Regions from separate parts of the Homo sapiens genome. Here region 1 is linked to region 2. Evidence: fine-mapped expression QTL. A gene starts in region 2. The other region holds a variant in brackets. All regions are shown on one strand. Distances are from middle to middle. Region 1 has its middle 2.4 kb from the start of ADGRG1. Region 2 holds the start of CFAP20 (cilia and flagella associated protein 20).

Evidence for each region. PIP is the estimated chance that this variant, and not a neighbour inherited with it, causes the effect.
Region 1: its variant is fine-mapped to the expression of CFAP20 in macrophages after interferon gamma (Alasoo 2018, PIP 0.95).

The regions. Positions count from the first base shown.
Region 1 is chr16:57,624,764-57,627,777 of GRCh38, forward strand. It overlaps a transcript of ADGRG1 not described here. Among named protein-coding and RNA genes, the nearest start is that of ADGRG1, 2.4 kb to the right of the region's middle. The variant A/G (reference allele first, on the strand shown) is at 1,816.
Region 2 is chr16:58,128,139-58,130,638 of GRCh38, forward strand. CFAP20 (cilia and flagella associated protein 20) reads right to left here and starts at 1,243. Exons shown (of 6, transcript NM_013242.3): 1 at 894-1,243. The coding sequence starts at 977. It overlaps LOC101927556 (a long non-coding RNA gene), which reads left to right and starts at 746. Exons shown (of 4, transcript NR_188516.1): 1 at 746-1,525. RefSeq lists enhancers at 507-1,428, 968-1,137, 1,429-2,349 and silencers at 768-907, 2,030-2,267.

The DNA.
Region 1 (3,014 bases), 500 kb before region 2:
TCTTGAAGATCTCCTCCTACCTCCCCGGCAGCCTCCTCTCTACCTCCTTTGCAGGCCCCTCTGAATAACAGTGCCCTGGCCAATGCATTGGGGTGCCCATTGTCTGCCAGGCCTGGGCTGCAAGATTTACGCATGTGGCCTCATTTAATCGGCCCAATAGAAGGTGCTATTTTGGTCCCCACTTGGCAGGCGAGGAGATAAATGGATGGAGAGATGCTTGCCCAAGTCATCCAGCTGGCCGGCTGGGAGTAGAGGCCAGCTGGCCTGAACCCAGAGTCTGTGATCACAGACTCCGGGCTCAGAGAGGGTGCAGCAGCATTGCCCCCTCTCCTCTGTCCCTCAAAACGAAGGGTTTCCTGCACCTTCAGCTTTCTGCTTTCCCCACACCATCTCTGGACTCCGTCGCCAGCCAATGATGCCATGACCTTCTCTGGGCCTGGCGACCCCAGTCCCTCACTGCTGAGCCCCAACGACGTGTTTCCAGCTGCCTTGGGAAGCAGGGGGGACCTGTGGCTTCCCCACATGACACAGAGCTGCCCCCATTCCATTGCACACAGGGCAGTCTCTTCTCTGCCTTCCGGATCTGCACCCCATCCTGTGCCCCGATTCTTCAGGGACGTTTCAGACATCTTCCCCCTCTCCTCGGTCCCCACCTTCACTTGTCGGGTTGTGGGGGGTGGGGTGTCCCAGCCCTTTTCCTGGTCTCTTGGACCAAAGTCTCCTCCCCCGCTCTTCCCCCATCTGCCTCCTTCGAGGCCCCATCCGGACCCAACTTCCCCTCTACTCCTCTGCCCATCCCTCCGCATCATTGCTGGTACAAGTCCCTGGCGTCTAGACCAGGGCTTCTCACACCTCCAATTCTGGAATCCCCTGGGCATCTTATTAAAATACACATTCAGATTCAGCAGGTCTCAGGCTATCTGTAGGTCTGAAGACCACATTTTGAGGGCTAATCAGGCCTCTCCCTACCCAAACATCTTCTCTGGCTCCCCAGTACCTTTGATTTAAGCCCAAACTCTACACTTTCAAAATCTTCCAGAATCTGCCCCTTGCTGCCCAGTTAGATCCCACTTCCTTCCAAGCATGGCTCCATGCCCTACCTCTCCACCTCAGCCAATGCTGTTCCCTCTGCCTGGGGTGCCCTTCCTGCTGGTCTCTGTTTATCGAAGCCCCCTTCTTCTCCTTCAGGTCCCAGCAGGGGCTCTGGGGTCTACACGCTTAGTTCAGATCCTGGCTGTTATAGAAAGGCGTGGGTAGCCCTCCCTGTACCTCGGTTCCCCTTCTGTAAAGTGGGGATAGACTGTTGTGAGAACAGAAGGAGAAGATGAAGTGCCTAGCAGGGGCCGGATATCTGGTGTCCCGTGTTTGGTTACAGCCCACACACCTGGAGGCCCAGCCAGGTCCAAGCTGTGCGACCTTGGCTAAGTTACTTCATGTCTCTGACCATCTCTAACATACAAGTGGTACCCAACCCACAGGGTTGTGTGGATAAAATGAGAATGATCTGTACAAGCAGAGCATCTTACACCATAAAACCTCCAGACATAGCAGGTGATTATTAGTCCTGTTATCAGCACTCATAACAGATAGTGTTGTGTTTAACAAGTCATTGAATTTCTCCCCCTTTACTCCCAGAGACCCCTGGATGCTGAATACCAACTCCAGGTATCGCTACTATGAGAACCAGGCTTGTCTCTCTAGCCAGACTCAGAGCTGGGGGCCTGCTTCCTCACCTGCCTGCCCCTAGCTCATAGTAGGTCTCTGCAAAGTCCGACGGTGAGAGAGGCAGGCAGAGCTGGGCAGCCAACTCCGCCC[A/G]GCCAGGCAGCCCCATAAGCCTCTCCTATGTGGCCAGAGTGGCAGCTGGCTCCGCACTCTCTTCAGCCATCTGCAGAGAGAGTGGTGCCTTCAACTCTCCATCTGTGCCCTTCTGGTCAGCACGCTCTGTGGGGTGTGTGTGTGGTGGTGGTGGTGGGGGGACAGCTGCCCTGTGGGCCTGGTCCCTGGGGAACAGCTGAGGCTGCCCGGGTTACCAGTTGATCAGGCCCTGAAGGACTGACCTTGGGGAAACTGAGGCAGAGGTGGTGGTATGTCAGGGACAACCCATCCTCCCCTAGATAACTCACTTGTCCTCCCTTGTTAGTGGGCCCCCAGTGTAGGCTGGCCTCTGCTGCTTTGGCAATAAGGGAGTTCCCACTGCAGCCCCGGGAGAGAGCAGAGGGTATGACATGGGCCCAGTCCCCACTGTGCCTCCCTGCCCCAGGTATTGGCCCACAGCCTGGACTGGGGACTGTGAATGTGGGAAGCACAGTGCCGTTTTCTGGAAGCTCTCACCTTATGGCCTCCCTGCACCCCACGGGGTGGCTTTGTGGCCCTTCCTTTCTGCAGCTTGATTTCAAGCAGGTAGGTGAGGAGTGCAGTTCACCTGCAGCAGCCCTGGCTCCTAGGCTGCCCGAGACGTTCCATTCATTCTTCCTCCACGTGGCATGGGGAAGCTTTTCCTGGCCCCCTTGTTTAGAAGGCAGATCTCTACCGGAGAGAAGGAATCTCAAGTTCCCCAAGCATCCACGTGTCCAGGCCCCAGGCTGAGGCCTGGGGTGCTGGATTGCTGAGTGGTTAGGAGACCCGCTATGGAGCCAGACGGCCTGTGCTCCCGCCATCCCAACTCGGGCACCTCCCTGCTGTGTGATCTTGGGCAGGTTAATTCTCATCTCTGAGCTACATGTATCTGCCTTAAGCTCCCTCTTCTTCATCACCACATTCACAGGGAGTATTTATTGAGGGCTTGGCAAGTACCAGGCACTGGTCTGAGTAGCAGGTTTGACTTCTCTCCACTGCCAGGGGCGCTCTGGAGCTGGAATGCAGACGGTGGTCAGCGAGTGTAATTACTGTTATTGTCACCACTCACCCTTCTGGCATTGTAAAAGCCTCCCAGCACATCTGACTGAGGAATCATCTATCCTCATTGCTCGGAGGAGGAGGGCAGACAGGAGCCTCTGCAGGGAGTGTGAGTTATC
Region 2 (2,500 bases):
TGCATGAAGAACGAAATACCAAAGTAATAAAATGCAGACCAATTCATAGACAGCTAGATCTTTCTTCACATCTGCAAAAAACAGATTCATCATCTCGTGGGGCCAAACACATATCATCTAGTGGATGCCTGAATAAAGATGAGGCCTGTACTTGGCTCTGAGTTTATTAATCCAAACAAGACTTTGACTGTCAGCATTCTGCAGTTTTCCTGATGGAGAAATCAGGCACCGAGGGCATAGTACAGGCAAGTCACAGTGAGTGTGGAGCAGGTGCCAAGGGCCACTGAATTCTGACTTATTTGGGATCAGTGGGAGGAAGGGAGCAAATGAATGCAATTTAAACATCACTGGCTTGGCCGGAGTCTTTCTGTCTGCTCCTCTGTAAGGGTGCCTGAACAAAGGCTCTGTGTCTAGTGCCCAGCACCGTGCCTGGCACAAAAACGGATATCAGTAAATATTTGGAATTCGTGAATAGCAGGTCCTTTCATCTTTACATCCCCAAAGCTCCTTCAAATAAGTTCGTGCATTTCATGCTACGAGATGGGCACCATCAACCCCATTATATTGGTGGGGAAACAGTGGCTCAAAAGAATGGACTGACCGACCAAGTCAAGACAGCAGCGAGGGTCGCGGTCCTAACCACACCACAGCTGCAGGACACTTAGATCTCAGCCACGCCCACCCACATGCACCGCCCCCCCCCCACCTCCTCCGCTGCTTACACGACGCCCCCACCTCGCGCCCCAGTCCCGCCAGGCTGGGGACAAGGCACAGCAGCGTCCTCTCGGCCTCTCCCAGGCCCCAATTCGACACAACCATTCCCCGTCCCCAGCCCCCGGACGAGGAGGGGGTGCAGCCCCTCCACCCCGCCCCGTCGCCGCCCCTAGCCCGACCTTTTTGTCCCAGATTTGCAGAGGCTTGCTGCCGATGCTGTAGAGGATGGAGAGGAAGCCGCTCTGGAACGTGTTTTTGAACATCTCGCCGGCGGCCTTCTCCTAAGCCGCCCCCGGAGCCGACCTAGGCCCCGGAGTAGATACAGGCACCGAGCGTCGAGGGCACAGCAGCAGGCCGGCCCTGTTCCGAAGAAGGGTGGTTGAGCTCCTGGCCTCCGGATCTGCAGCCACTGATGGCCGGACTCGGACGCGGCAACGCTAAGTCCGCGATCTTCAGCTCCTAAGCTGCGAGCTCAGAACGGAAACCACAGCAACTACCGTCCGCGCCGCGGTATTTCCCCGCCTTCAATGGAGGCGGAGGGCCGCCCGTTGCTTAAAATGAATCCCTCCGCCCATCTGAGCCCGCCCCCCGGGAGCGCGGGGCCCAATCCCGTTACAAGGACCACGGACTTCCGTTTCGTTCCGCCTGTAAGTCCCGCCTGGTCCCGCCTCCTCCTGAAAAGAGCTCAGTTGTCAAGGAACTATTTTTCTTGCCGTCGTCCCAGAGATGCCTTTGGAAAAGCGGAAGGGCACGGAGGGTTCTGGAGTTCGTTGCTGGCACCTGCGTGGTGTCATGAGAACGTGGCGGGGCGGTGAGTGACGTGAGGGGGCGTGACGGCCAGGCCGGGAGTAGTTGCCCGCGCGGGAGAACAGGGGCTGCGCAGGGAAAGCGGCTTTGAAAAAGAGCTTCTTGGCGTCGGGCGGACGCCCAACACATGCTTGTCGGCCAAGTACAGGATAAGGTTAAAGGGAACTAACCAATATTCAGCACTAACTGTGATAAGCGCCTAATATACATCCCTGCCTGTCATTATTCACATTGTGGCATGCAGTCAAAGCGACACTCTGAGGAAAATGTATCGCCTTAAATACATTGATTAGAAAATAAGAAAGCCCGAACATGATTAGGCCGGGCGCGGTGGCTCACGGCCGAAATCCCAGCACCTTGGGAGGCCGAGGCAGGCGGATCGCTTGAGTCCAGGAGTTCAAGACCAGCCTGGGCAAAAAAGCGAGACCCTTCCTCTACAAAAAAATACAAAAATCAGCCGGGCGTGGTGGCGCGCGCCTGTAATCCCAGCTACTTGGGGGGCTGAGGTGGGATGATCCCTTGAGCCCGGGAGGAGGAGACTGCAGTGAGCCGAGACCACGCCACTGCACTCCAGCCTGGGCGACAGAGCGAAACCCGGTCTCAAATAAATAAATAATCCTGAACATTAAGATAAAGGCAGACATTCATAAACAAAATTAAGAAAGTTGAGTTGAACCAACAGCTGATTTTTATTTTATTATTTATTTGTTTATTTATTTTTGAGACAGGATCTCGCTCTGTCACCTAGGCTGGAGTGCAGTGGCGCGATCATGGCTCACTGCAGCCTCGACCTCCCCTGCTCAGCCTATCCTTCCACCCAGTCTCCAGAGTAGCTGACTACAAGCGTGGGCCACCATGCCTGCGTTAATTTTTTGTTTTTGTAGAGACAGGGTTGCACTGTGTTGCTCAGGCTGGTCTCAAACTCAGGCTGGTCTACACTCCAGCCTGGGCAACACAGTCTCTGAAAAATAAAAATAAA